Homo sapiens: one gene and its partners. The protein of the gene in region 2 purifies or fractionates together with the protein of the main gene of each other region. This does not show direct contact. Each region holds a gene or a part of one and is shown on either strand. Other genes may lie near its edges.

Evidence for each region.
Region 1: the proteins of PTPRH (region 2) and LMAN1 purify together in Homo sapiens (affinity purification with mass spectrometry, with the first as the bait; one large-scale study listed by BioGRID). This does not show direct contact.
Region 3: the proteins of PTPRH (region 2) and FAR1 purify together in Homo sapiens (affinity purification with mass spectrometry, with the first as the bait; one large-scale study listed by BioGRID). This does not show direct contact.
Region 4: the proteins of PTPRH (region 2) and MON2 purify together in Homo sapiens (affinity purification with mass spectrometry, with the first as the bait; one large-scale study listed by BioGRID). This does not show direct contact.
Region 5: the proteins of PTPRH (region 2) and UBE3C purify together in Homo sapiens (affinity purification with mass spectrometry, with the first as the bait; one large-scale study listed by BioGRID). This does not show direct contact.
Region 6: the proteins of PTPRH (region 2) and ATP2B1 purify together in Homo sapiens (affinity purification with mass spectrometry, with the first as the bait; one large-scale study listed by BioGRID). This does not show direct contact.
Region 7: the proteins of PTPRH (region 2) and LANCL1 purify together in Homo sapiens (affinity purification with mass spectrometry; one large-scale study listed by BioGRID and IntAct). This does not show direct contact.

Annotation. Positions count from the first base shown.
Region 1 is NC_000018.10:59,341,982-59,346,323, forward strand, and holds part of LMAN1 (protein ERGIC-53 precursor), read right to left. Parts: intron 4,071-4,342; coding exon 3,938-4,070; intron 1-3,937. UniProt on the Homo sapiens protein: Mannose-specific lectin. May recognize sugar residues of glycoproteins, glycolipids, or glycosylphosphatidyl inositol anchors and may be involved in the sorting or recycling of proteins, lipids, or both.
Region 2 is NC_000019.10:55,206,369-55,211,354, forward strand, and holds the start of PTPRH (receptor-type tyrosine-protein phosphatase H isoform 1 precursor), read right to left. Parts: upstream 3,134-4,986; 5' UTR 3,066-3,133; coding exon 3,015-3,065; intron 1,047-3,014; exon of another isoform or gene 928-1,046; coding exon of another isoform or gene 832-927; coding exon 798-831; exon of another isoform or gene 700-797; intron 609-699; coding exon of another isoform or gene 588-608; coding exon 321-587; intron 1-320. UniProt on the Homo sapiens protein: Protein phosphatase that may contribute to contact inhibition of cell growth and motility by mediating the dephosphorylation of focal adhesion-associated substrates and thus negatively regulating integrin-promoted signaling processes.
Region 3 is NC_000011.10:13,706,152-13,710,493, forward strand, and holds part of FAR1 (fatty acyl-CoA reductase 1), read left to right. Parts: intron 1-1,748; coding exon 1,749-1,928; intron 1,929-4,342. UniProt on the Homo sapiens protein: Catalyzes the reduction of saturated and unsaturated C16 or C18 fatty acyl-CoA to fatty alcohols. It plays an essential role in the production of ether lipids/plasmalogens which synthesis requires fatty alcohols.
Region 4 is NC_000012.12:62,465,465-62,469,625, forward strand, and holds the start of MON2 (protein MON2 homolog), read left to right. Parts: upstream 1-1,361; 5' UTR 1,362-1,743; coding exon 1,744-1,854; intron 1,855-4,161. UniProt on the Homo sapiens protein: Plays a role in regulating membrane trafficking of cargo proteins. Together with ATP9A and DOP1B, regulates SNX3 retromer-mediated endosomal sorting of WLS away from lysosomal degradation.
Region 5 is NC_000007.14:157,144,989-157,149,330, forward strand, and holds part of UBE3C (ubiquitin-protein ligase E3C), read left to right. Parts: intron 1-4,342. UniProt on the Homo sapiens protein: E3 ubiquitin-protein ligase that specifically catalyzes 'Lys-29'- and 'Lys-48'-linked polyubiquitin chains.
Region 6 is NC_000012.12:89,614,386-89,618,727, forward strand, and holds part of ATP2B1 (plasma membrane calcium-transporting ATPase 1), read right to left. Parts: intron 2,655-4,342; coding exon 2,417-2,654; intron 1-2,416. UniProt on the Homo sapiens protein: Catalyzes the hydrolysis of ATP coupled with the transport of calcium from the cytoplasm to the extracellular space thereby maintaining intracellular calcium homeostasis.
Region 7 is NC_000002.12:210,455,969-210,460,310, reverse strand, and holds part of LANCL1 (glutathione S-transferase LANCL1), read left to right. Parts: intron 1-4,342. UniProt on the Homo sapiens protein: Functions as a glutathione transferase. Catalyzes conjugation of the glutathione (GSH) to artificial substrates 1-chloro-2,4-dinitrobenzene (CDNB) and p-nitrophenyl acetate.

The DNA of each region.
Region 1 (4,342 bases), on a different chromosome or scaffold from region 2:
AGAAAAGAAGGAGACATTACAACAGATTCCACAAATACACAAAAGATCGTCAGAAACTATTTGAACACCTATATGCTCACAAACTAGAAAACCTAGAGGAAATGGATAAGTTCCTGGAAACACACAACTTTCTGAGACTGAAACAGGAAGAAACAGAACTCCTGAACAGATCAATAATGAGTAGCAAGACTGAATCAGTAGTAAAAAAAAAAATCTCTTAACAACAGCCGGGACTAGATGGACTTATAGCTGAATTCTATCAAACATATCAAGAAGAACCAATTCTCCTGAAATTATTCCAAAACACTGAGGAGAGAATTCCCCCTAACTCATCCTATGAGGGCGGTATCACCCTGATACCAAAACCAGACAAGGACACAAAAAAATAGAAAACTACAGACCCATATCCCTGATGAACAAAGATGCAAAAATCCTCTACAGAATACCAGCAAAATGAATCCTACAGCACATCAAAAAGATAATACAGCACGATCAAGGTGGGATTTATCCCAGGGATGCAAGGAGGGTTCAACATATAAAAATCCATATATATGATACACCACATAAACAGAATTAAGAACAAAACACATGATCATTTCAACAGACTCAGAAAGGACATTCAATAAAATTCATCATCCCTTCATGATAAAAATCCTCAATGAACACACCTCAACATTAGGCCACATATGACAAACCCACAGCCAACCTCACACTTAACAGGGAAAAGTTGAAAACATTCCCTTTAAGAACTGGAACAAGACAAGGATGCCACTTTTATCACTCTTACGTGTAATAACATAATACTAGAAGTCTTCACCAGAGCAATCAGGCAAGAGAAAAAAATAAAAGGCATCCAAACTGGAAATGAGTAAGTAACATTATCCCTGTTTGCTAATGATATGATCTTATATCTCAAAAATCCTAATGACTCCACCAAAAAACTCTTAGATTTGATAAATGAATTCAGTAATGTTTCAAGATAAAAAATTAATGTACAGAAATCGGTAGCATTTTCATATACTGATAATGATCTAGCAGACCAAATCTAGAAGGCAATTCCATTTACAACAGCTAAAAAAAAAAAAAAACACCTAGAAATATATTTAACCAAGAAGGGGAAAGCTCTCCATAAGGAGAACTTCAAAACAACGATGAGAGAAATGGTAGATGACACAAACAAATGGAAAAGTATCCCATGCTCATGAATTGGAAGAATCAATATTGTTAAAATGACCATACTGCCCAAAACTATCTACTAGTTCTAGACACTCCCAATCAAATTACCAATGTCATTTTTCACAGAATTAGAAAAAAAAAATCCTAAAACTCATATGGAAAAAAAAGGGAGCCCAAATAGCCAAAGCAATGCTAAGCAAAAGGAATAAATCTGGAGGCATCACATTACCTGACTTCAAATTATACTACAAGGCTAAAGTAACCAAACCAGCATAATACTGGTATAAAAACAGACACATAAGTCAGTGGAACAGAACAGAGGACCAGGAAATAAACCCACATACCTACAATCAACTGATCCTCAACAAAGTCAACAAAAATAAACACTGGGGAAAGGACATCCTATTCAATAAACGGTGCAGAAAAAATTGAATAGCTATATATAGAAGAATGCAAGTGGACCCATACTTCTCACCATATGCAAAAATTAACTCAAGATGGATTAAAGACCTAAACATAACACATGAAACCATACAAATCCTAAAAGAAAACTGAGGAAAGACTCTTCTGCATATTGGCCTAGGTAAAGAACTTAGACCAAGTCCTCAAAGGCAAACACAAGAAAAACAAAAATAGACAAATGGGACTTAAACTAAAAAGCTTCTACACAGCAAAAGAAACAATCAACACAATAATCTAACCTACAGAATGGGAAAAAATATTTGCAAACTATGCATCCAACGAAGGGCTAATATCCAGAATCTACAAGGAACTCAAACAACTCAAGAGAAAAACAAAAAGCCCATTAAAAAACTGGGCAAAGAGCATGAACAGACATTTTTCAAAAGAAGACACGCAAGTGGCCAACAAATAAATGAAGAAATGCTCAACATCACTAATCATCAAAAAAATCCAAATTAAAACCACAATGAGATACTATCTTACACAAGTCACAATGGCCATTATTAAAAAGTCAAAAGACAACAGATGTTGTCAAGATGTGGAGAAGAGGGAATGCTTATATGCTGTTGGTGGGAATGTAAATTAGTACAACCTTCATGGAAAACAGTATGGAGAATTCTCAAAGAACTAAAATTAGAATTACCGTTTGATCCAGCAATCCCACTACTGGGTGTTTACCCAAAGGGAAAGAAATCATTATATCAAAAAGATACTTGCACTTATACGTTTATTGCAGCCCTATTTACAATAGCAAAGATATGGAATCAACCTAAATGCCCATCAACAGAGAACTTGATAAAGAAAATGTGGCGTGTGTGTGTGTATATATGTATGTATATACTATAGACTACTACTCAGCCATAAAATAAGAATGAAATTATGTCTTTTGCAGCAACATGGATGGAACTGGAAGTGATTATCCCAAGTGAAATGACTTAGAAAGTCAAATACCATACATTCTCACTTATAAGTAAAAGCTAAACAATGGGTACACATGGACAAATGGAGTGGAATAACGGACACTGGAGACTACAAAAGGTGGGAGGGGAATGAAGGTTGAAAATTACCCACTGAGTACCAGGTTCATTAGGGTGAGAGTACACTAAAACCCCAGACTTCACCACTATATGACACAAGCATATAAGAAATCTGCACTTGTACTCTTCCTAAATACATAAAAAGTTAAATAAAATTAAAATGGAAAAATATTTCTCTTTCATTACACTGTGTGATTCTACTTATAAGAATAGGCAGAACTAATCTACAGTGATAACAATAAGAATAGTGATGGGCTCTGTGGAGAAGGTTGTTGACTTTAAGGAGGCATGAGGGAACTTTCTGGGATGATAAAAATGTTCCGTGTACTGATCGGGGTGATGGTTAAATGGGTATACACATTTGTCAAAATTTACTAAACAATACTTTTCAAACACTAAAGTCAGCTTCAGGATATACTCACAAATTTTATGTGATGATGTTTAAAACAAATTCAAAATAAGAATGACCTTTATGTTTCATTTTTAAATTCATTAAGTCTGACTCATACTGTTGATCATTAAGAGAACTGCATACTACATAGAGTTCAAATGCTAGCCACAGCCTTTATTAAGTACACCTTTGATCACTTATGCTGACTGGGAACAATTCAGATAAAAAGCTAGCAGATAATATAAATTCCCTCAATTTGGCCTTAAAATGTTTTATTTTTGACATTAGCACACTCACGTTCTTAATAACATTGGGTTAGACTAGTATTTTATAATTTTCAAGTATACAGTCCAGGATTCTATCGAGTAGTATGGGGAGGAGAAGCAGATATGTCACATTACTTTCACAACAGTTTTGATAGATTTTAAGGATTATCTCCACACTATAAGGTAATTATGTGTCACTAAAACCAAAAATATACACTTTTGATGATTTCAGTCAAAAAATATTTACTGAACCTGAACTACTAGGTTAGCATTGTTTTGGATTTATTTTTAGGCTTAGTGGTCACAGCAATGAATATTAACAAAATCCCTGTCCTCATGGAGCTTTCACTCTAGCGGTCCCATTCCTCCAAATAACCATGGTACTCTTTATTTCATACATGACTAAGCCACATTCTCACTGGTAAAAATGCCAATCTCTTGACTCTTAAAGACTAAAGATTTGCTCCTAAATTGTTTCCAGAAATCACTTGGAATGTGCCTGTTCAGAGAGCAGGGATGAGCTAGGCAACACAGAGACTCAAGCGTCCATGATCAACAGCCTCAAGCCCTGCTGCGGCACCCATGTCAGCTTTGCTACAACTCACCAGGCTGCCCTTGGAGGTCGGGGTGGCCCTTCTGGAATTCCTCTTTTTTTTTATCCAATTCTTGTTGAAAGTGCTCAAATTCCTCCTGATACTTTTCTTTTTCCTTTTCCGAAATTTCTTTATCTGGTGTGGGCTTTTTTTTGGAGTTTTGGAATAGATCATTAAAAAGATAAGAAAATCATTAAGATATCTCTATACATGTTATTTTTCTCATTTTAACTCTTCTACCACTAGCGGAAAGGTTAACATAAAAATGTATTCCTTCTTTACTTAAACGATAGCAAATTACTCTTTTTTTTTTTTTTTTTTTTTTTTTTTAGAGACAAGAGTCGCGCTCTGTCACCCAGGCTGGAGTGCAGTAGCGTGATCTCGGCTCACTGCAACCTCTGCCTCCCAGGTTCAAGC
Region 2 (4,986 bases):
GCTGGAGTGCAGCGGTCCAATCAGAGCTCACTGCAACCTCTGCCTCCCGGGCTCAAGCGATCCTCTCACCTCAGCCTCCCGAGTAGATGGGACCACGGGAACACGCCACCACAGCTACTTTTTAATTTTTTTGTAGAGACAGGCTGACCAGTTTCTTTTTACTTATTTTTATGTGGCTGATAGAAAATTGAAATTCTCACGTGTGGCTTCCACTGTGTTTCTATCCAACTAAAGAACCTGTCGCATTTTGTCAGCTCTCAACCACCCCCTACCACTGTCCTTATAAAAGAAATAAAAATAAAGCAGTGGCTGCCTCTTACCTGTGGCAGTAGTGACAGTCCCCACAGAGCTATTTACTCCGTCTTTCTCCACCCACACAGAACACGTATACAATGACCCGGGTCCAAGGCCATCCACGGTGACGTTGGTGGCTGTTGTGTTTCGAGTCTCTGTTGTGCCGCCGTCTCCAGTACACTGAACCCAGTAGTTGGAGTTCTGTGAGTCTAGGCCATCGGGGACCTCCCAGCTCAGGGAGATGGAGCTGGTGGTCTGAGTCTCCACTGTCAGGTTCCTCCCTGGGTTGGGGGCTGAGAATTGGGAAGGAAGGTCTGACAAAAAGGGAACCAGGTCAGTACAATCCCTCCCAACCCCTGAGCTCACGCCCCAAGTCCAGAAACAACGGCGCTCATAAACCCCTACCATGGACCACTGGACCCCACGGGGACCCCCCAGAGGCTCACGGCAGTTGCGGTCCCACCTCTTCGAGTGGGCAGTGAGTTCAGGCAGGGGTCACTCACCAGGCGCCCTGGCCCCTGTCCAGCTGCACAGGCCCTGGAGGGAACCCAGAGAAAACGGAGTCAGCCTCTCAACCACTCCTCCGCCCAGTGAGGCCGAGGGGCTGGGAGGAGCGGCTGGTCCCCGCCCCATGAGTCACCCTTGCATGGGAAGGAGGGGCCGGTGTTAGGCTGGGCTGTCACGACCTCGACCGTCTTTCCTGGGTCGAGGAGAGAAGGGGGAGCATGGCAGGAGCAGAGCTTAGGGAGCTGGGGTTGGCTCCACCCGATAAGGCTGAGAGATAAAATTAATGATTTCATTTCCTGAAATATATGTCCTTGGAAAACCGAGGGCAGAGAGCAATGAACAGACTGGGAAGGGAGAAAAAAACCAAGGTTGGGGATCAGGAACCTTGGCCTGAGGGTGGAGGGCCTGGGGGCCTGGGGGCCTGGGTCTGAGGGAGGAGGGGCTGGGGGTCTCGACCTCTGGTTTGAGGGAGGAGAGGTTGGGGGCCTGGACTCCTGAGTCTGAGGGAGGAGGGGCTGGGGTCTGGACTCCTGGGTCTGAGGGAGGAGGGGCTGGGGGTCTCGACCTCTGGTTTGAGGGAGGAGAGGTTGGGGGCCTGGACTCCTGAGTCTGAGGGAGGAGGGGCTGGGGGTCTGGATTCCTGGGTCTGAGGGAGGAGGGGCTGGGGGTCTCGACCTCTGGTTTGAGGGAGGAGAGGTTGGGGGCCTGGACTCCTGAGTCTGAGGGAGGAGGGGCTGGGGTCTGGACTCCTGGGTCTGAGGGAGTAGGGGCTGGGGGTCTGGATTCCTGGGTCTGAGGGAGGAGGGGCTGGGGGTCTGGACTCCTGGGTCTGAGGGAGGAGGGGCTGGGGGTCTCGACCTCTGGTTTGAGGGAGGAGAGGTTGGGGGCCTGGACTCCTGAGTCTGAGGGAGGAGGGGCTGGGGTCTGGACTCCTGGGTCTGAGGGAGGAGGGCCTGGGGGCCTGGGGGCCTGGGTCTGAGGGAGGAGGGGCTGGGGGTCTCGACCTCTGGTTTGAGGGAGGAGAGGTTGGGGGCCTGGACTCCTGAGTCTGAGGGAGGAGGGGCTGGGGTCTGGACTCCTGGGTCTGAGGGAGGAGGGGCTGGGGGTCTGGATTCCTGGGTCTGAGGGAGGAGGGGCTGGGGGTCTGGACTCCTGGGTCTGAGGGAGGAGGGGCTGGGGGTCTCGACCTCTGGTTTGAGGGAGGAGAGGTTGGGGGCCTGGACTCCTGAGTCTGAGGGAGGAGGGGCTGGGGTCTGGACTCCTGGGTCTGAGGGAGGAGGGGCTGGGGGTCTGGACTCCTGGGCCTGAAGGAGGAGGGACTGGGGGTCTGGACCCCTGAGTCTGAGGGAAGAGGGGCTGGGGGTCTGGACTCCTGAGTCTGAGGGAGGAGGGGTTGGGGGCCTGGACTCTTGGTTTGAGGGAGGAAGGGCTGGGGGCCTGGACTCCCGGGTCTGAGGGAGGAGGGGCTGGGGTCTGGACTCCTGGGTCTGAGGGAGGAGGGGCTGGGGGCCTGGACTCCTGAGTCTGAGGGAGGAGGGGCTGGGGTCTGGACTCCTGGGTCTGAGGGAGGAGGGGCTGGGGGTCTGGACTCCTGGGCCTGAAGGAGGAGGGACTGGGGGTCTGGACCCCTGAGTCTGAGGGAAGAGGGGCTGGGGGTCTGGACTCCTGAGTCTGAGGGAGGAGGGGTTGGGGGCCTGGACTCTTGGTTTGAGGGAGGAAGGGCTGGGGGCCTGGACTCCCGGGTCTGAGGGAGGAGGGGCTGGGGTCTGGACTCCTGGGTCTGAGGGAGGAGGGGCTGGGGGCCTGGACTCCTGGGTCTGAGGGAGGAGGGGCTGGGGTCTGGACTCTTGGTTTGAGGGAGGAGGGGCTGCTTCCTGTCCGTGAGCACAGCTGTGTGTTGCCTGAAGCCAGTGTCCCCCGCAGCAGACACGACAGTGTCTAAGGGCCCGGGTGAAGCTGGTGTCCCCCACAACAGACACGACAATGTCTAAGGGCCCGGGTGAAGCTGGTGTCCCCCGCAGCAGACACGACAGTATCTAAGAGCCCAGGTGTAAGACTCTCCTACAGTCTCTGCCAAGCCTGAAGCCCTCTTCCTTCTCCAGGGGATCTTCAGCACCTACTTCCTCAAGATCGAGGTGCAGGCACCCAGCTCCTTCTCCCTCAGACCTGGGAGTCCCTGCCTTGGGAGCCCGCTCTGGGCGGGGAGCACTTACCAGCAGCACCAGGTTCCCCCAGACCCCGAGGCCCCCGCCAGCCCCAGCCATGCCTCCAGACACTGCCGGGGACCCAGGAGTCCCAGGCCTAGTCCTTCCACCTGCTGGACTTTACACTCAAGAATTTCCCCTTTACCAGATCATTGGTGAAGCCAGAGGCCAGGGCGGGAAGGGGAGGAGGAGGAAGTGGAACCCAGCTCCCAACCCTGCCCCGCTGGCCCTCACCTTCCTCCCTCACCGCTGCCTCTAGCTCTGACACTGGAGATGCCTCCCATCCTTTCTCCAGCCCCCAGCCCACTCCACTTTGTCCCCCGAAATCTCCCTCTGCACCCCAGGTACCGGGTGCCGCGCCCCACTGCTGCACGGATGCGGGACGTGGGGCAGAGGATGAGAGCAGGGGGTGCTGAGAGAAAGGCCAGCTGACTCCCTCGCCTCCCTGGTGGGTGATCACACATCAAGAGCAGCCTGGGGCTTAGACCTCATGCCCCTCGTCCCTGGAGCACGCTCTTCCATTCAGCCTCTGACGCCTTTCCCCTCTCCGTCTCCCACAAGCCCCTGCAGCTCTCACAAAATGAGCCCAGCGGGCTCCTGCCTCTTGGCCTTTGCCTAGACTGTCTCCCCCACCAGATGCACCTGCCTACTTTCCCCCTAACAGTCTCCTACCCACTGCTCCATTAGGATTCAGCTTGGAAATGACCCATGCCGGGCCTGGGGCCTTTCTAGCCTGGTCAGGACCCTGTGCACTGTCTTCCACACCCCAGACTCTCTAATTTGCATATCCATCTGTGACCCTGAGCAAATGACTTAAATCCACAGTGACTCAGATTCCTCATCTCTAAAGAATGGGCACCCTTGTAAATATGCTAAGAGAAATAGATGAGTTACTACGTGGAAAGTCTTGGAACAATGCCTGGCCCATTTTAAACAGTTGATAAATATTAGTCATGTTTATTTTTAGTTCATCCCTAGGCCACCTGTGCTCAGAAGGGGCCTGACACCCAGGGCTTTTCAAGGTGTTTTTGTTGACTTACTATGTGCACACGTGGACTGCCTTCATCTCACATATAGTGCGGAAATGAAGAATAGAAACCCCAGCCGGGCATATTGGTGTGTGCCCAGCTACTCAGGAGGCTGAAGTGGGAGGATCACTTGAGCCCAGGAGTTTGAGACCAGCCCGGGCAATATACAAAACCCCATCTTTACAAAGAAAAACAAAAAGAGAGAAAAAATTACCCAGGCATGGTAGTGCACGCCTGTAGTCCCAGCTACCGGGAGGCTGAGGTGGGAGGATCACCTGAGACTGGGAAGTCAAGGCTGCAGTAAGCTGCGATTGTGCCACTGCACTCCAGCCTGGGTGACAGAGTGAGCCCCTGTCTCAGAAAGCAAAACAATGGCCAGGCGCGGTGGCTCACACCTGTAATCCCAGCAATTTGGGAGGCCGAGGTGGGCAGATCACCTGAGATCAGGAGTTCGAGACCAGCCTGGCTAAGATGGTGAAACCCCATCTCTACTAAAATGCAAAAATTAGCTGGCTGTGGTGGCAGGCACCTGTACTCCCAGCTACTCAGGAGGCTGAGGCAGGAGAATGGTGTGAACCTGGGAGGCGGAGCTTGCAGTGAGTCAAGATAGCGCCACTGCACTCCAGCCTGGGTGACAGAGCAAGACTCTTTCTCAAAGAAAAAAAAAAAAAAAAAAAAAGCAAACAAAACAGCTGAGCATGGTTACTCACGCCTATAATCCCAGCACTTTGGGAGGCTGAGACGAGAGGATTCCTTGAGCCCAGGAGTTCAAGACCAGCCTGGGCAACATAGGGAGATCCCGTCTCTATAAAAAGTAGAAGTAAATTAGCCAGGCATGGTGGTGCACACCTGTGGTCCCAGCTACTCAGGAGGCTGAAGAGGGAAGATCAGTTGAGCCCAAGAGGTGGAGGCTGCAGTGAGCTGTGATTGCACCACTGCACTCCAGCTGGGGT
Region 3 (4,342 bases), on a different chromosome or scaffold from region 2:
TATAGAAAATTTCTGTATTTCTAATTTTTTCCATAGTTATAATTTTAGTGATTTGATGATATTCCATCATGTTGACATACCACAGTTTATGTATTATTCACTTAGAATAAACTTTAAGGAATTTTAGTTTCTTTTTATTTGGAAAATGAGGATTAGAACAAGTTTTTCCTCTGAGTTAATTTCAACAGGTTAACTAGATTAATAAATATACCATTTCTGTAATTCCTGGTACTTTGTCCTAGTTTCCTTCAAATCATTTGTGTCAGTTTGTAGTATCAACAACAGTGTATTACTTTGCCATTTTTGTCACTAATATTGAGTATTTAAATCTTTTCGTTTGTTTGTTTTTATTTTTTTAATTGACAAAGGTATATATATTTTTCATTTACAACATGTTTTGAAATATGTATATATTGTAATGGTCAAATGAGCTAATTAGCATATTCATTATCTCACATACTTTTTGTGGTGAGAATACCTAAAATCCACTCTTTTTGTAATTTTTAAAAATAACAATATATTGATATTAACTATAGTCTATGTTGTACAATAGATCTCTTGGTCAGTTTTTTAAAAGCTGTAAACAGAAGTTTAATAGAAAGCAAATCTATCCACCATCTCATTACCTTAAGGAATATTTGTTGACTGCCTGTTTGGTGACTATGTTAGAAATACTGCTAAATGTTTGCAAGCTATTTGTTTAATTTTATACCAGTCTTAGTAGGTAGGTTTCATTATTGTTCCCATTTCCAGGTAAGAAAACTGAGGCCTGAGTGCTTCAGTTTATGTCCTGATAAGTAGGCCAAGTCAGGATTTGAACACAGGTCTGATTCCAGAGCCTTGTTTTTAATCCTGCTTCAAAAAAATCGTATGTATTCTTTTGGTATTATTCATACAAATGTTTCATATTTTTATAGACTTCAAATAATTATTTTAGTAGCTATATTCTTTCATTGTGATAAAATACTTACTTTATTGAGTCATTCCATATTCCATAGTGAATATTTGGGCTCTCTAGGTTTTTATTAATTACATGATGCTTCATTGATAACTTTTCTGCATATATACTTTTGCTTTTGTGGAATTATTTACTTCAAGTAAATTCCAAGAAGGGAATATATAGATTATTTTGGGGTCTTGCATATGCCTTGTAACAGATGTACCAGTTTTATTATAATATCCCTTTGAATTTTGTAGGGTAGCCTTAGAAAAGTGTTTGGATTGATTGCTACAAAGAGGAAAATAAACATCTTCTTTCTTGATTATATGTTAATATAATTTAATGTTTCTGAGTTTTCTCTGGCTGTATCACCCTTATTAGTGACTCTACGTTAACATTTTAAAATTACTTAACCATTCTATTTTTTTCTCCCTGTGGCACATCCATATTATGCAAGATTATACTTTTAAAAATCAAGATGCAAAATAAGTCTAGCATGACTTAAAAATGTATGCATAAAAGCTAAAGACTGAAATTATCTGTTTGTTCCTGGACAATTATATAATTTTTAAATTTCTACTTTAATTTTTAAGGGCTACAAGGCAGGTTATTTTATAATCAAATTTTTTTAACACAGCTGATAAACATTTAATATGGAAATAAAATACACAAAATCACAGCTAAAGGATAAGTTGTAAAGAAACAAAAATTTCTCTGTCTCTCTACTTCTCTAATGAAAATGATATTTTTAACAGGTAAAATAACATAGCTTCCCAATTTTCTATTGTCACTTTTTCTTTTTAAACAGAGATGCTGTTCAGTTAAATGTGATTGCAACGCGACAGCTTATTCTCCTTGCACAACAAATGAAGAATCTGGAAGTGTTCATGCATGTATCAACAGCATATGCCTACTGTAATCGCAAGCATATTGATGAAGTAGTCTATCCACCACCTGTGGATCCCAAGAAGCTGATTGATTCTTTAGAGTATGTTTGTTTGAAATTTATATACATTTACTTTGATCCCAAAAGAGGCCAAGGCGGGCGGATCATGAGGTCAGGAGTTCAAGAGCAGCCAGGCCAACATAGTGAAACCCCATCTCACTAAAAATACGAAAAAAATTAGCCAGGCATGGTGGCAGGCGCCTGTAGTCCCAGCTACTTAGGAGGCTGAAGCAGGAGAGTTGCTTGAATCCCAGAGGTTGCAGTGAGCCGAGATGGCGCCACTGCACTCCAACCTGGGCAACACAGTGAAACTCTGTCTCAAAAAAACAAAAAACAAAAAAAAAACCTTTGGATTCAAGTCCCTCCCTCTTCTCCTCACCCCACCCCATATACATGTGCGCGCGCGCGCGCACACACACACACACACACACACACACACATACATTTATCTCTTTTCTTCAAAAATTTTTGCATATCCCCTGCATTCTTATTGTATAGATTAATATCTAAATAAATGTTAATGAAGTCAATGTGTAGTTTTCACTTTTGACCAAGTATAATGGTAATATTTGGAGGAAGGCTCCTGAACATCTTATTAGTGATATTAGGGGCTCTCTTTTTCAGGGAATCAATCTTAGCAACCAAGAAGTACCAATGGAGACCCATGACTGCCTGTTTAATAGCAAGGCTCTAATTTATCAAAGGATTCCCCTCACCACCCCCCAGCCATGGAGTATATATATAGAGGGGCCTTTAATTATTAGAGAATCAGAGGAATCATAGTCTTTTAATTCATAACCTTACTTTTTATCTTTCTGAGGACTGAGATCCTGTCAGCAATTGTTACATGAAAATTATTTGTGAGTATTGATAGATAGGGATTAAATGAGGGAGTATATACCATGACCTTATTCTCATTTGCTGCAGCTCAGGCTTTCTCATCAAACAGACAAGGTTCAGACAAGAAAAAGAGAGATCTTTTTTACTTTTACAATTATATAAACATTCCAGTATCCACCATATTTTCATGTTTGTTAATCCTTATATAATATCTTTGAATTTTTTCCTCCTTTATTCTTCCCTCTTTTAGTCTTCTTTCTTTCCAGAGATTCTATCCACTTTGACTGCTTAGTTAACATCTGCTGCTTTCTCCTAAAATAAGCACAGTCTTTTCTTTAAGGCTTTCCTGCTAATATGAGGAAACAGATAGATTGTAAAAAAAATGAGAAATTACCAAGACATTTTCATTGTAATTCCCTAATTTCTATTTTCTCACTCATTTTCTTAGATGGTCCCAAATATCTACTTCATTTTCTTCATAGATCAATAAACAGAAATATTTAATATCTGCGGGAAAAGTTGAGTGTGAAAGTTAATGGAGCATTTTACTTTTTCTCTTACTAACAATATATACAAACATTTGAGAAACTGAAAAAGAACTTGTAAGCTAATGCTGTATCTCCTTTCCTTGCTGCAAAGAAATCTAGCTAACATAATTTTAAGATAACTCATGGGTTTGTTCTGTAAACTCGTTCTAGTAATAAGGCTTACTAGCTAAAGTTTCTCCTGAGTTTAGGCAGGTTTTTTTTTCCTCATGTATCAACTATCCCTTTCATTTTTCAAATCTCATCTCCATGGTGGAATTTTTCCTAAGTTGGGTAGCAATTTCCCTTCAATTTAATTGATGTTCTTTTCCTTTCATATACAAAAAGTACTTCCATATACAGAAGAAAATTTTATCTTGATAATCTCTGTTTTATGCTTTCTTATCAATTAGTATGGGTATCATTAGAGTATGACAATATACTGAGTCTACTTGCATACACAGCATTATTGACAAGAAGTAAAAACAAGTACATAATGTATTAGAATCAGAAGTTTAGGAAAAACCATGGACACCACCTAGTATATCGCCCTCCTTTTACAGATGAACAGAGTAGACCATTTCTTCAAAGAGAACTGGAGGAATTTTTTTGACTTCATAGTAGGTTGCTAATTGAATTTTTATAGCATGCTTCAATTTATTTTTATTGTTCATCATAGCATTTGTTAATCTCATTAGAGCATATGATTTGCAGTGCTGCACCTTAAATACTAGGCCTTTTATGCCTTTTGTGTTCATTATAAATGTATGTTAATTATAACTGTATATAATTAACATGTTACTTCATTAGGTGGTTATATACAGATCTGTATTTCCTAACCTGCAAACTTCCAGAAGGTTTCAGATATATTTTGGAATTTATTTGGACTTTAGAGAGGGTATATAATTTATGTACTGTGTAATAAGAAAAAACTTTAACTTGATCTGGGTTAGTATCCCTGATCAAATACATGTAAAATATATGAATGTTTAAGTTGTATCAAAAAAAAGACCATAAGTCAGTGTAGATCAGATTTTGCTATCCACTGTATGATTTATGAAAGAACTCTTAGTTTTCAGATCTTTTTGGATA
Region 4 (4,161 bases), on a different chromosome or scaffold from region 2:
CCCACCCAAAAAAAGCGCCTCGTTTTTACAAGCTCCCTGAGACCTCAAGAATAATGTCTGCCATATATTCCATTTGAACTTTTTTGCTAAATTCACCAGTTTTCATACATAAAGCTTATACCATAGGAGGTGTCAAGTTTCCCAGAAGTTGTGTAATAGGCACAAATGATCAAAATTACTGCCCTAGGAGCTCTCTACTATTACCTCATCTGTCCCCTTTATCCATCCTTGCTTTGCTTCTTATCAGAAGGAAAAATAAAATAAAATTATTTAGCTTACAAAGTAGCTCTGTTACAGCCAAACAGCGCTATCCACTGACAATCTCATGGCTCACTGTCTTCCATCATGTCATAAGCTCAGCTGTCTGAAGGTGTTGGTTTCTTCATCTCTACTGTTTCTGGTTTTTCCTCCCTCATTTTCTGCTTTCTGACCAGCAGCTGCAAAATGTCTTGGGGAAAAAGTAGACCAACCTGGATCTTGGGGAAATACAGATGAAGATTTTTCTGTTTGGCTTTTGCCTCATATTTATTTGGCACTTCAGACCTGATGAAGGCTTTTATGTATCTGTGCCTTATTTGAGCCTCGAAACTCTGATTTTATAATAGAAGGGTATTCATTCAACAAGTATGTACTGATTACCTGCTATATGCCAGACACTGTTCTAGGTGCTGGAGATACACAGGAAACAAAATAAGATTTAAAAAGAGGAAGAACCGGCAGCCCAACTCGCGAAACTCTCCTTTTAGCTGGGAGCATCTGCCAGTAAAGGGGCCGGGACAGATCTCGTAGCGCCTGGTAGGTGATTGGAGGAATTTTGGCTTTTACTTTGAGTGAGATGGGAGGCCAGCGGAATGCGTGGAGCAGAGGGTAGTCTCATTTTAGAGATTAGGAAAATAAGAGGCTACCCCACAGTAAGTGCACCAGTTGCGTTTAAAGAAAAAAAATGTATATTAACAGGAGGTAGCCACTGATTTGGGGCCACTAGTCCAGAGATTCGAAATGAAGCGGGAGGAGACACGTTAAGATTAATCTACAGGGAAACAAATTATTTACACCGAAATACAATTTAACACAAACATACGCAAAGAGATATGCCAAGGAGTACTCGGGGGCTCTGTTCAGGCACTTGTTAATGAAAACGAAGCGAATCTTGACGCCTTAAACCCTGTCTAGCCTACTTGATTCCGGGGGTGGGGCTGTGGGAATCGCTGCCCACCCGGAATCCCGCCTGCCCCGAGCATGGCCAAGCCCCAGCCCCGCCCCGCCGACGGCCTGCCGCCGGGGTTGGCCGCGGCGGTGGCGGAGGCCACGGTACCCGGAAGTGCGGCTGACGTGTCCCGGCAGCGCTCGGAATTGTGGGCGACTCGGCTAATGGCGTCGGCGAGTCTTAGGGGCCTGGGGAGCTGGCGCTGAAGCTTCTTGCCAGGTTGGCTGGTGACACCCGGTGTGGCTGGGCCCCGCGGCAGCGGAGGGACCTGCCCGCCTTGTGGGTTTCTCGGCCAGAGTCGGCGGAGCCTAGCGGGACGGTGCGACTGCGGGGGGCGCCTCCGAGAAAAGCCAGAGGTGTTGCGGGGAAGCTGCTGGGGGACGCTCGAGCAGGCTCCGGGTTCGCAGCCCAGGGCCCAAGAAGCGGGCTGCTGAAGGACCAGAGACACCGGGAGGGAGCTGCCTGTGGCCCTAAGGAGCTGACCGTGCCAGAGCTTGTTTGTACCTCTCGGAAATTGGCTGGGACCTTGGAGGATCATGTCCGGCACCAGCAGCCCCGAGGCGGTGAAGAAGCTGCTGGAGAATATGCAGAGCGACTTGCGCGCCTTGTCACTGGAGTGCAAGAAGAAATTCCCACCTGTCAAAGAGGTAAGCTTCAGGTGACGTCAGGAGAAGGCACTGTGAGCATGCCTGGTCCTGTTAGACTCAGTGCTTCACCCCAGTTTCCAGTCCTAATTTTCATTCAGGCCTCACCTTTCCAGATTTGTGAGTCGGTGGGTTGTTCCACAAGGGCTTTTTATAGTTTCCACTGGAGAGGGCTGAGGCACTTTGATTTTCTCCCCTCTCCTGTCCTCCCAGTTTAGGAGTGAAGTTCATGAAGTGAGCCTATTCAGTTAATCCAGCTAGGTGTACTGTGCACTAGCCTATTCTGGCCTTTTTCTTACTTGAAACTGGCCAAACCAAAATTGAAAAACTTGTTTGTTGCTCCCCGAAACGAGTATCCACCCATCTTGTTGAAACCTGTACTCCTCACGTTTATGGCATATCACTGAATTGGAAACAATTTTCCTTCTGGTATATATCATTCAGCTTAACTCTGTATCAATCCTTTGACGTGTTAATAAACTATCCAGAGCCACCTAATTTATGAAGAATATTGAAGATCCACATAATCATGTTAAACCTTGTTATGAGCAGTACTGTAGTGGGAAGTTGGGCTTGCAGTCAGAGCGAATACACCTGAATTTAGTTCCAGCAATAAATCTTAACCTCTTTGAGCTTCGGGTTTTTTTTTCCAGCTGTAAAATAGGGTTAAAGGATGGTTTTATATTATGTATGGGAAAGATGTCAGAGCAGAAGGGTATTATTAAAGAGATCCCAGTAAATAATACATGGAAATTTAATTCTCCAAATAGTTCTTGAGGTGAAATATTTAACATTTGGTTACTATTTGCTTTTTCTCTTAAAATGCCATTTTAATTCTCTAAAAAAAAAAAACAAACAAAAAAACCCACCAAAAACAGGCCCGGCTAATTTTGTATTTTTAGTAGAAACAGGGTTTCTCCATGTTGGTCAGGCGGGTCTCGAACTCCCGACTTCAGATGATCCCCCTGCCTCGGCCTCCCAAAGTGCTGGGATTACAGGCGTGAGCCACAGCGCCCGGCTGTTTTTATTTTTATTCCTATTTAATGTAGTTTGTTTTACCTGCAATTTCATTTACTCTTTGCCCTAAAAATTCACCGAGGGATTTCATATTTACATACTTATTTAAATATATCTTTATTATTATGAAGATTATGTAATTAGAACTTGACCAATAAATTTTGGATTTTAGGCTTGTAAGGAATATTGACTTTTCTGTAAGTGCATTGGTTTTATCAGTTTTCAACAAACTCCATCTTGTATTTCTTTAATAAAGTATTACCCAGTGATGGAAACCAGATGTGCCACTTTTGGAAAGATGGCTGTTACGATATGTTTTATTTCACATAGTCAATAGTCTGTTTTGATATTGATTTTCATTTTTTTTATATCCTCTGTTGAAAGTTATAACAAGTAAATCTAAAGAATTAGGCTGTTTTAGAGAATTTTAAAGAATTAAGTTGTTTTAATTATAAGAGAAATGCTCTCATTTAGAAAATATCAAACACTATTTTGTAATTTCAACAATAATTTGTAGAACTGACTTCGCAGTTCTAATAATTCATACAAAAACTGTGGTTCCTCTATAGGCTGTTGTGGTCTAGCTTGGGAATTTAATTGCCATTTATTACATTTTTTTGTTTTGTTTTTTGATTTTGGAAATGGGGTCTCTGTGGCCCAGGCTGGAGTGCAGTGGTGCGATCTGCAACCTCGAACTCCCTGGCTCAGGTGATTCTCCCACCTCAGCCCCCTGAGTTGCAGCGACTACAAGTGCATACCACCACGACAGGCTAATTTTTCGCCTTTTTTTTTTTTTTTTTTGTAGAGACGGGGTTTTGGCAGGCTGGTCTCCTGAACTGGGTTCAAGCGATCTGCCCACCTCTGGCTCCCAAAGTGCTGGGATTACAGGTGTGAACCACCATGCCCAGCCAGAAGCTGCTGGAGGATCCCTTGAGCCCAGGCGGTCAAGGCTGCAGTGAGTGGTGATTGTGCCACTGTACTCCAGCCTGGGAGACAGAAGGAGACCCTGTCTCAAAACAAACTAACAAAAAAGCTTATTGGTTTTTACTTGAACACTGGCTAGAGAGATATTTTGTAATTGCACCTAGTCTTTGAGATAATAGCAAAAGTAATTCTTGTGATTATCTCTGATGCATAATTTTGTATATGGTACGTGTTTATAAGAATTTGTTGAATGAAAGCTTTTTGATTTCTTACCCAATGACACTGGGCACTACTTTAGGAATTGAAAAATGATCTTGACTGTGTCATAGGTTTAAAACAAAGAGAGTCATTAGCCTAATTATGATGAAG
Region 5 (4,342 bases), on a different chromosome or scaffold from region 2:
CCTCATTGCTGGCCAGGTGTGGTGGCTAATGCCTGTAATCCCAGCACTTTAGGAGGCCGAGGTAGGCAGTCAGGAGTTTGAGACCAGCCTGGCCAACGTGGTGAAACCCCGTCACTACTAAAAATACAAAAAATTAGCTGGGCGTGGGAGGCTGAGGCAGGAGAATTACTTGAGCCCTGGAGGTGGAGGTTGCAGTGAGCCTGGATTGTGCCAGCGCATTCCAGCCTGGGTGACAGAGCATGACTCTGTCTCCAAAAAAAAGAAAAAAGGAGGAGGCCCGGCACTTTGGAAGGCCAAGGAGGGTGTATCACCTGGAGTCAAGAGTTCGAGACCAGCCTGGTCAACATGGTGATACTCTATCTCTACTAAAAATACAAAAATTAGCCAGGCGTGGTGACAGGTGCCTGTAATTGCAGCTACTCAGGAGGCTGAGGCAGGAGAATTGCTTGAACCCGAGAGGCAGAGATTGCAGTTAGCTGAGATCACGCCATTGCACTCCAGCCTAGGTGACGAGAGTGATACTCTTTTAAAAAAGAAAAAAGGAAGAAATCCTCATTGCATATTCATCCATCCCTCCCATCCCTGTAACACCTGGCAACCACTGATCTTTTTACTGTTTCTACTCTAGCCTTTTCCAGAATGTCATATAGTTGGAATCATATACTATGTAATCTTTTCAGATTGGTTTCTTTCACTTAGTACTATGCATTTAAGGCTCTTTTCATGGCTTGACAGTTCATTTCTTTTTACTTTATTTTTTATCAATTAATAAGCTTTTTTTTTAGAGTGGTTTACGGTTTACAGAATAATTGATGGGAAACTATAATAGAGTCCTCAAAACCTCCTCTCCGCTGCACGCTGTTTCCTTTGTTATTTACATCTTGTATCTGTGTGGTACATTTGTGACATTGGAGAACTATTGAATTTTAATGAAGTCCAGCTCACCAGTGTTTTTTTCATGGATCTTGCTTCTCGCGTTGTGTCTAAAAAGTCATTACCAAAGCCAAGGTAACCTAGATTTTCTCGTATTTTCTAGTAGTTTTATAATTTTGTATTTTACATTTAGGTCTCTGATCCATTTTGAGTTAATTTATGTGAAGGATATAAAATCTGTGTCTAGATTTTTAATTTTTGAAGTTTTTTTGTTTGTGGATGTCCAGTTAGCACCATTTCTGAAAAGACATTCCCCAACTCCATTGAATGCCTGCCTTTGCTCCTTTGTCAAAGATCAGTTGGCTATATTTTTATGGATCTATTTCTTTTTTTTTTTTGAGACGAAGTCTCGCTCTGTCTCCCAGGCTGGAGTGCAGTGGCGCAATCTCGGCTCACTGCAACCTCTGTCAAGCAGTTCTCCGGCCTCAGCCTACCGAGTAGCTAGGATTACAGGTGTGCACCACCACACCTGGCTACTCTAGTACAGACGGGGGTTTCACCATGTTGGTCAGGCTGGTCTCGAACTCCTGACCTCGTGATCTGCCCGCCTGGGCGTCCCAAAGTGCTGGGATTACAGGCATGAGCCCCTGCGTCCGGCCTTTACGATCTGTTTCTAAGCTCTGTTATGGCTTTATTCTCTCCTCCATTGATCTCTCTCCCTTTTGTCAATACCATACCATCTTGATTACTGTAACAGATCTGTAGTAAACTGTACTACTTAGTATATATATTAAACTAAACTTTTTTTTAATTTGAGAGGGAGCCTCCTGTTGCCCAGGCTGGAGTGCAGTGTTGTGACCTCGGCTCACTGCAAACTCTGCCTTCTGGGTTCAAGTGGTTCTTCTGCCTCAGCATCCTGAGTAGCTGGGTGGGCATGTGCCACCACACCTGGTTAATTTTTGTATTTTTAGTAGAAACTGGATTTCACCATGTTGGCCAGGCTGGTCTTGAACTCCTGACCTGAAGTGATCCGCCTGCCTCAGCCTCCCAAAGTGCTGGGGTTACGGGAGTGAGACACCGCGCCCAACCATAGTAAGCATTGAAGTCTGGTAGTGTGAGTCCTTCGACTTCCTTCTTCTTTAGTATTGTGTTGGCTATTGTGGATCTTTTGCCTCTCCATAAGAGTCAGTTTGTTGATATTCACAAAAAAAACCTGTGGAATTTTGATTGGGATTGTGCTGAATTGGTAGATCAAGTTGGGAAAAACTAAAATCTTGACAGTGTTGAGCCTTCCTATCCATGAATATGGAATATCTCTTAATTTGTTTAGTTCTTTTATTTCTTTCATTGGTTATATAATTTTCCTTATATATACCTTATACCTATTTTGTTAGATTTATACCTAAGCGTTTATTTTTAAGGGGTGCTAATGTGAATGGTATTGTGTTTCAGTTTCAAATTCCAGTTCATTGCTTATTTGTAGAGAAGCAATTGACTTTCATGTACTAACCTTATGTCCTGAAATCTTGCTATAATCACTTCTTAGTTCCAGGAGTGGTTTTTTGGTTGATACTTGGAATTTCCTGCACAGATAATCATTTCATTTGCAACCAAAGACAGTTTTATTTCTTCCTTCCTGATCTGTATGCCTTTTTTTTCTTTTTTCTTTTCTAAGACCATCAGAAAGCAATGTGTTTTATTGTCTTACTGCATTAGGTAGGATTATAGTTGAAAAGGAGTGGTGAGAACTTGCCTTGTTCTTAATCTTAGTGGGAAAGCTTTGAGTTTCTCATCATGAAGTATGATGTTTGGTGGGTTTTTTGGTAGATATTCTTTATCAAATTGGGGAAATTCCCCTCTATTCCTAGTTTGCAGAATTTTATCATGAATGAAGGTTGGGTTTTGTCAGATGCTTTTTCTGTATCTGTTAATGTTATGTGATTTTCCTTCTGCAGCTTGTGGATATGATGGATCACATTAAGTCATTTTAGAATATTGAGCCCGTCTTGCGTATCTGGAATAAATCCCACTTGACTGTGATGCATAATTCTTTGTATACGATGTTAGATTGAGCTTGTTGATATTTTGTTCAGGATTTTTGCATCTCTTTTGATGAGGGACATCAATTTAGGGTGTTTTTGTGATGTCTTTGTCTGGTTTGGTATTAGGGTGATACTGGCCTTATGGAATGAGGATACTCTAGGGCCTACCAAAACCAATTACTATAGTTTTTTTGTTTTATTTTGTTTTTTTGAGACAGAGTCTCCCTCTGTCGCCTAGGCTGGAGTGCCTGGAGTACAGTGGTGCGATCTCACTGCCACCTCCATCTCCCGAATTCAAGTGATTCTCCTGTCTCAGCCTCCCAAGTAGCTGGGCTTACAGGCGCCCACCACCAGGCCTGGCTAATTTTTTTGTATTTTTAGTAGAGATGGGGTTTCGCCATGTTGTCCATACTGGCCTTGAACTCCTGGCCTCAAGTGATCTGCCCACCTCAGCTTCCCAATGTGCTGGGATTACAGGTGTGAGCCACCATGCTTGGCCTCAATTACTCTAGTTTTAATTCCTCCCCTATGATAGGTCTAGACTGTTAAGATGGTAAGAACTTGATTGCTTAGTTTTGTAAAACTGCCCTCTATTATATAATTGAAGGGATTACCTAGTTTTGTAAAACTGCCCTCTATTATATAATTGAAGGGATTACCTAGAATATTTTAACTTAAAATGTTTTGTGCTATTTTGTTTTAAAAAGCAGAGGTGTAATGGATGTGATAGTATAATGCTCCATATACATTGTAGTGGAACATAAAAACTTTTTCTTACAGATCTGGCATCAAATAAAGTCAAAATATTTTCTAAGATCAAATTAGTTCTTTTTTTTTTTTTTTTTTCCTTTAAGAGACAGGGCCTCACTGTGTCGCCCAGGCTGGAGTGCAGTAGCTATTCACAGGCATGATCATAGTGCACAGCAGCCTCAAACTCCTGATCTCCAGCGATTCTCCTGCCTCAGCCTCCTGAGGAGCTGGAACTCCAGGCTTGCCACTACCCAACCCCAGCCTGGCTCTGAAAATGTTAATTGACTGTCAGGACTGGTATTATTTAGCAACACTGCATTTGTTCCTTCGAATACAGTTATGCTGTATCCTTTACATGTAGGAGCAAAAGACTGTAGTTCCCTGCTATAGATAAGGTTAAGAATTCTTTTTTTGTTTTTTGAGATAGAGTTTTGCTCTTGTCGCCCAGGCTGGAGTGCAATGGCTCAATCTCGGCTCACTGCAACCTCCGCCTGCCAGGTTCAAGCAATTCTCCTGCCTCTGCCTCCGGAGTAGCTGGGATTACAGGTGCCTGCCACCACACCCAGCTAATTTTTCTATTTTTAGTAGAGATGGGTTTCACCATCTTGGTCAGGCTGGTCTCGAATTCCTGACCTCAGGTGATCCACCCACCTCAGCCTCCCAAAGTGCTGGGATTA
Region 6 (4,342 bases), on a different chromosome or scaffold from region 2:
TTCTCCTGTGACCACATGGCAAACATTACCCACCTGGCTATTTTATAAGCATTTGAAATTACAAAACCCCAAACCAAATTTATCTTAATCTCTCAACAGGCTGCTGTTTCTGGTTCTCTTATTACATTGGTAACCCTCTATCAGCCACCAAGTTACAGACTGGTTCTCTAACTTGTACAGAGATGGTTAGCGACCATCTCCTTTATAAGACTTCTAATTGTGGCAACCTCTTAGTCATAAAAGCCTTCTTCCCTAGCTACACACTTTCTCTAAATATCTTTAGTTTCATCAGTGATTTCTTCAGACTAGCCCACTTTCAGGCTCTGAGGTCCAAATGCTTGACATACATTTGGATGTCTCAGACACCTCAACAATGTCAAAAACAGCGTATCCAAACCCAACATATTACTTCCTACTGGTTCTATCTCCACTTACTTTGAAATCATTCTTTTCTTTCCATCTCCTATGCCACAACTGTGGGCCAAGCCATGATCATCTCTTGCCTGGGATCACTGCAATAATCTCATTAGCTTCCCTGCTTCTACTCTTCTTCATCTCTAATCCCTGTCTTACACGTACCCAAAATAGTATTTTAACAACATAAATCATGTCACTTCCCAGCCTGAATTTCAGAAAATTCAGAGTCCTCACAGCCCAGTAAGGCCAGAGATCATCTCGTCTCCCCTTTCTTCTTTACATTTATAGCCACACTGGCCTCTTTTCCACCTTTAAAATAGCTACTTTTCTCACTTTCACTTGCATTTCTCGTTTTGCTTGGAATGCTCTTCTTGCAGCTATTTACATGGCAGACCCACTATGAACCATCAGATTGCAACTCAAATGCCACATCCTCAGAAATTCTTAATGCAGTCTCTCTCCATTACTTTATTTCATTACACCGTGCATATCTTATATAGCCCTTCTGCACTTGTAATTGTCTTATTTAATATCATCCCCCCTGATATGCCACCCTGCCACCCAGAATATCTTAAGGCCTATGAGAACAGGGACCAAGTCTTATTCCTCCCAGAATTCATTTTTCACTTGACATGGTGTCCATGTATCTATCATTCTACCTACTTAGCTGTCTTCTTCCTCTAGAATATAAATCTCAAGCCTATTCTGGTCACTGCAGTATTTCCAGCTCCTAAAAGAGTGCTACACATTAGGTTTTGAATCAATTAGCTGATAAAGTCACTGAACAAAAGTGGTTTTCTGTTAGTGCTTTTATTTATGTTGCTTCTTTGCTCAGAATATACCTAACTGCTCGCTCTCTTTCTTGGTTTAGATAATACTTCCTCCTTCTTTAAGAATCAGATCAGGTAATTAACCTCTAGGAAGTCTTACCTGACCCCTCCAGTGGTCAATACAGTACAGTAGTCTTTTAAGCACATGTGTTTTAGACAAAGCTGGTATTTTAACACACTAGGTCTATGCTCTATACATTCTCGATTTTTTAAAAATGTATTTTTAAACATGTCTAACGCTCTATACATTTTTGATTCTTAAAAATCTGCCAAATAAGAGTAATAATATGCATACCTCATAAAGGTAGACATTTAAAAAAATTACTTGTAAAACACATGGCTTAAGTATATGGCACACAGTGAGAACTCAATAAAAAGATGCTATTAGGCTAGGTTGGGAACTCGTGTTCTCTGCTCATATAACATGCTCTGTATATACCCAGCAAGGTAGTAATATCTTGGGTTGCAATAATCACGTGTTTGGTTCGTCCCACATAAGACAGTAACTTCTTTGAGGCCGGTGATCAGATCTCAAAACTCTTAAGTCTCTAGTACCTTAGGATAGTGCCTGGCACACAGTAGTTGTTCAACAAACTTAAAAAAGGTGAAAAACCAAATAGCAAAAAAAAATTAAAGAGGGAAATCAGTCTAGAGCTGCATGCCATCCAATATGACAACTACTAGCAAGATATTTTAATTTGAATTAAATAAAATTTAAAAATCCTGTCTTTTAGTTGCACTAGCCACTGAAAACTAGAAGTCAGTATTCACACATGGCTAGTGGCTACTGTACTAAACAATATACAGAACATTCCTATTATCACAGAAAGCTCTACTAGACAATGCTAGTCTAGAGACTGTGAAAACAAATAATGGCACCTATTATTTAATTTAAGATAAATAATAACTGAAAATTCTACCCACTTCAAGGCACTGTGCTAGGTTATGGTGCTATGAACACATAGGATCCCAAAGAGACACTGTCTTTAAAAACCATAAAAGCTAGCATATGCACTGTAGGTACTATTATTTCATTTATCTTGGGTTCACACAGAAAAAAAAAAAATCACAAACACCAAGAATTTTACTAGAAAACTGGTTACAATTAAGGCCTAGGTCCTCTATAGTTATGAGATTCTGCACATGCAGAACACAGAATGTTTCACCACCTCAGGTCTCACAGGATCTTCAATCCCCACAACAGCAATGCATGTAAGGCCGGTGACAATATCATTTTCATTATCCCACTCTGGTTCTGGTTCTCCTGCTGGAAAATCTCTGAATGCAAGACATATGGTTCTCAAGCCTTCTGATGCCATCGGTTCAATCACAGTTTTTACAATATCATCACGGTCCCTTGGTCTGAATACTTTTGCCTCACCATTAGCACTCAAGATTTTGAAACACCTAAAAGGAAATGTTGAATCCAAACATCAATAATTTAAAAAAATAATGGTTAATGCCATTTAAGTGAACTGGCAGGCCTAGAAATCATGGGATCTGATATCTGGAATTTAGAGAATTACATATAATTCATTTTTATAGACTTAAATTCACTTTTCACCCTCCCTTTTACAAAACAGAACTAATATGTATGGTTCTCATTTGACAGTTCTCCATTTATCAATTACTCTAGAACTTCTCTAAACCTTGTCTTTTGGAAATGCAGTGCTTTCAAACTTTCATAAAGAATCCCTGGGTGGCAAAGGAGAATAAACTATATACTTCACCATTTTGGTACAGAATCAGACATTAGTTTGAAATAATACCAAAATCACAAATGTTTTCTTCTTTTAAGGTAAAAAGCCAAGCGTAGTCAACCCCTTACCTGAGATGTTGTTTCATCACCTATATTGTTTTAACCATGAAAGAAAAAAAATAACTTATTGTTAAAATAAGCATTCTATCAGAATGAGAGTTAATGCCAAAAGTTATTTTCAGTGACACTACTACCTTTTCTTTCATTACATAATGAATAAAAATCATACTATATACCTATTTAAAGTTTGTTTTTCATAATGCCTCTCTATACTCCTCTCCCTTGATGATGCCATCTCTTCCTGCTTCTAGGGAGGTAATTCCCAAATCCACATCTTCTGTTTTGTTTTTCAAAGCTTTCCATCACTGCTGAAAAATTCTACCCAGATGTTTTATCAGTACCTAAACCTTAATGGATGAAAGACTGGAAGCTGCCTCTTCACTGCCCATGTAATGTGCATCAACATTACCCTAATCATTTTGATGTAAGTCTAAAATTTCACCTTAATACTTATTTTTCCTGATCATCTCTCTACTATTAGCTCCTAAGTCCTATACATTTCTCCTCTGAACAGCCTCCTCAATGTGTCCACTCCTTTTTATTTCTCCTGCTACTACTTTCTTCTGGTTCTTACTTCAAGCTACAAAGCTACAGCTATTGTAATAGCAATAGCCTTTTAACTGATATGTCTCTAGTTGATTTTTTTTTTCCCTCTAACCCACCTTGTTCCCTGATGCAAGAATTATCTTTAATCACAGCTTTGATGATTCTACTACTTGAAGAAAAAAATACCTCATTTGCATTATCTGGCTTACTTCAATTTTAACTGCTCAGCCCAACATTTAAAAAGTCTCCACAACAAAATGCAAATATTACTGTGGGAACACTTGCTGTATGTTTACTGTCCACCAGGCTTCACACTAGACAGTTGGTATGCATTACTTCATTTAAGTGCCACAGAGTTGGTGGTCATCACCCGCTTTCTCAGATGAGAAAAATGGAAGTAAGGGAAAAATCTGCCCCATATCCAGAAGCTAGTTAGTTGCAGAGAAAGAGTCAATGCCTGATCAGTTTTGACTAAAAAAAATTCTCTCCTAAACCATCTATCTACTACCCAGCAAGCCAGGGTTGAAACAGATTTCTAACCTTTTCAATGAAATCAGGTAACTGAGTGTACTGTGGCAAGAAGAAAGCTGTATATGGCCTGTGTGCCACAAAAGCCCATCACTATTCAGCTGAACTATACAACCAGATATTCCCCTCCCCAGTATGACCTGCATATTCTCATCTCCTTTCCTCTGCTGTGGTTTCCCCACCTCGAAGTTCTCATTTCATA
Region 7 (4,342 bases), on a different chromosome or scaffold from region 2:
TTGTAGATCTAAAATCTGAACATGATTTTCCCTACCAGAGTACATGAAGGGAGTCTTTAAATGCCCTTGAACTGCACGAAAATGCCTCACAGAGCTAAAGTACCGTGGCACAAAGCTTTTTACATCACTGTAAGCTGGTCGTAAAACAAATGAAAAATGTTGAGGAATAATCTGTAGAATGCAAAATCGCAGAAAAGTATTTTGAGAGATTCATGTATCTGTGGAGATTTTTATCTCCATATGCATATGAGACACAGCAAGGTCTTGATTGGCCAAAATGAATAGGACTAATGATCCGTCAGAAATTCAAAGGCTTAGTATTAATTACTTCTCAACAGCTGGCTGTATTTATAGTACTGCTTGGCATAAGTTCCTGAGTAAGGAAATTGCAGATTTAGAAGTGTCCCTAAATAATTTACCCTCCCATCCCCAGGGTAGTAGCTACAGGAAAAAAAAAAAAATCTAGTTCACAGCTTTCGTGCTGAAGCCAGGACTGATTCCTATTACAACAGGAATTTTATTTGGTCCTCACAGCATGTTTGTTTGTTTGTTTGTTTGTTTGTTTGTTTGTTTTTAATAGTTATCAACATTTCAAGACCAAGAAATTCTTAGGGTAAACTGACAGGCAGTGCCAGACTTCCTGAACTTCTTGTACGGAATGACATCTATTCCTGGTCTTCAGAGCAGTACTCTCCTTGGAATGTTCTGCAGTAATGGAAATGTTGTTATTTCCATCGCGACAGCCACTAGCCACATGTGGCTATTGAACATTCTAAATGTGGCTAGCATGACTAAGATTGAATTTTAAATTGTGTTTACTTTTAATTAACTTATATTACTGTAGACATTTATGGTTAGAGGGTATCATACTGGACACTGCACTTCTAGATGAACCAGGCAGGTTGCAGGAGTAGTAATTCAAAGTACTATACATCTGGATGTGTAGATTTTCTTCTATGTTTTCTTCTAGTTGTTTTACAGTTTCTGGTCTTAAGTCTAAGTCTTTAGTCCATTTTGAGTTGACTTTTGTATATAGTATAAAATGAGGTTCAAATTTCATTCTTCTGCTTGTGGATATACATAATAGTCATACTTACGAATATGACATTTAGTAACACCATTTATTAAATATAAAATAATTCTAAACTCTAGATCAGTTTAGAGCAGATTTTTACAATTAAGTTCAATCAAAATTTAAATCTCATTCAAGTTTTTTCTGGTCTAGAAGAGAAGATGAAGGGAAGGAAGCATGTCTCCACTCTATTTTTTGCTTAGCAGACAGCACAAAAGGAAATGTAATGTGATATTCAAATTTAAGCCCAAGAATACACTTGGCTAAAACCGGCTTTTGTCACATTTTAAAGTAGATGCATATTCTTTGATAAAAAGATGAAAGAAAATATTAAAAAGATGAAACTGCCTACATCATTCTTTGTCAAAACTCGAACAATTTTGGCTGTTATGTTAGAAGTCAGTAGAAATGTTTTTTCTCATTAAGTGTCCTTCAGAGAATAGAATCATATTTGGGAATGAATTTATTAATGGATACAACTGTACTCTTTCCTCCCAAACCTGATTCTCCAACAGAGGGGTTTGCCATCTCAGTGGATGGCACCATTTTCCATTTAGCTGTTGAAGTTAGTCATCGGGAGGCATTTTGACATCTTCTTCTCCGCCATCCCCCACCAGGTTCTGCTGATTTTACTTTCTAGACAGGTATCTTTCCAGTTCATTCTGACAAGATCTGTATTGCACCACCCACCCTGTGTCTCGCTCCTACTCCTGAAGCATCCTCCTAACTGTTCCTCCTGCATCCACTGTTTCATACACTCCCTTGCAAACCTTACAGTGCAGTTATGGTGAACTTTTAACAAAACAAATCTAAGTATATTCTTCCCACGCTTAAAATGGGTGCATTTCAAATGAAACTCCAAATCCTAACTGGCCTGCTAGACTCTGTGTAATCTAGCTTCTGCCTGCCTCTCTAGCTTTGAGAAGAGCTGTCTTCCTTAGGATTAGGCCTACCAGGACATGGCAATACATCTAAAATAACAGTGGCTTTAACAGAACCGAAGTTTATTTTTCTCTTATGTAAGTAGGCAATCCATGGACTGGTGTGGCAGCTTCACAGTCCTCCAGGATTAGGTGGCTTTGATCTTTGAAACTTTACCACCCTCAGCACAGAGCTTCCAACTCATGGTCCTTAGACGATGACTGCTCTAGCTGCACCATCACATCTGTATTCCAGCCAGGAAGAAAGTAGAAAAGGAAATAAATCGCCAGTGCCTTCCCTTCAAGAACATTTTCCAAAGTTGCCTCCACTACTCCCACTGCATCCTGTTGTTCAGAACTTCGCCACATAGCCATACCCGGCTGTGAAGAAAATTGTTCTTAGCAGCCTGTGCCCAGCTAAAATCCAGGGCATTATTGTTGAGAGAAAGGCAAGATACATTTGGAAAACCACTTACTCTCCATCACAAGAGCTAACTCCTCATTTTCTAGAGTAGAATATGAGTCAGAAATATCTGACATAGAAAACTTAACAGATAGCACATAAGCATATTATTAGAAATAGACAGATACTAGAGAAAATGGCTGAAACTGATGAAAATGGTTGCCTCTGGAAGGCAGGAACACAGTAAACCAGAGGACTGGTGTTTTGCATATTAAATCTTTCAGTACTGTATAATTTTTTCCATGAAGAACATATATATTTTGATAAACATTGCATTTGAAGGCATTTCTAGGCATTGACTGAAGCCAGGCCCACAAGTATGTATTAGGACTGGGTGAATTTTCCCTGCAAAGCCCGTGAAGTTGTGTTTTTATTTCCCACCTTGCCAACCATCCCTGAGTCTTTGGTATTGATTCAAAGGTGGTGGTGTATGCATGGTTATTGTCAACAGTTGAGGACCATAAAGATCAGGTTTAAGACATTTGGCCACAAGCAGTCCTCCCTTTTTTCTGTCATTAGGACACATTCTATTATTTTCTATTATATAAAATACTGATGAGGTATTAAATGTCTGTGACATAATACATTTTGTCTTATTTTCCTGACCTGGGCTGATTTATAATAAGCATGTGCAGGAAACTTTTTCTAATTGGCAGCAGCACTCACCACTTAAAGTCCTTTTCCACCATGGATGTTCTGTGACAGGGAATGTAGACACAGTAAACTATCATCTGCAGAAGATTGCTTATCAAAATCCACAGACCCAGAGGCCCAAATGAGAGGTAGGGGAGAACTGGAACATGAGATTGTGGAATCCCAGAAACTAGAAAGATAATTCTCTGCCTATCAAAAAGAAAGTTTTAATCCAAATGTACTCTTGTGAGACTTGAGAAATGATTACCTGTTTTTCATGAGAAATACACCAAATCTTACAATTGCAAGCCTTAATAGGTTTTGTTTGTTAAATAGTTAAGCCAAGAGGAATTGTTGCTAATGAGAGACAAAGATCTGAAAGAAAAACAATCACTGGGCTTGTGTTTAATCACTTTTTATTTTCTCAGATCTCCATCATGTCATTATCTGGCTTTGGTGCTTACATAACTTAACTAGGAGAGTTCAGGCAGCAATGGGAATAGGAGGGCAAAATGAAAGGTTAACAATTTAAATGGATCACCTGCAGATGCGTGATATGGATGGAGATGAAGCCTATTAAGGACCTAATTTTAGAAGAAGCTCTTGACATCAATCATTTGTGAAAAGGGTTTTTTTTTTTTTCTTACCTACACACAAGGTTTTGTACACTTGTCTACAAACCTTAAGCATTGATGCATCTGATCATCAGCTTGTGGGATTACTAACACCAAGCCACTTTGAAAGAGCAGTCAAGGTTATTAACTTTGGCAGGAAATGAAAATTTGGCCTTAATATACATGTGAAATTGAATTGTCTGTAGCACAAAGCTTTGGAGATTACCCATGCAAAATGAGAAAACTATCTAAATTTAAAATTGTCCTCAGTACAGGGAAAGTAATTTTGCAGACAGCATTTTTACTGCATTGAAATCCGTGAAGATTGGCTCTATTAATTTAAATTTAAACAGAGGTTCTGTGTCTTCTAAAAATCGCAAATGAGATGGAAAATGTACTTCAAGGGAAAAAATGGGTTTCTGGATATGCTGCAGGCAGGCAGGCAGGCTTCCTACTCCACATCTTTGAGTCTGCCCTGAGACCAGTTAGCTTCAGAGGGAAGGCTCTTTCCACTGTGACAGGCATTTGAAATAAGGACATGCAGACAATGCCTCTATTACATATTTCAGGCTTCAAGAGTAGGGTAAGAAACTGATCAAGTAGAGCCCAAGGCAAAAGTCATTGGTGGCTTTTACATTAC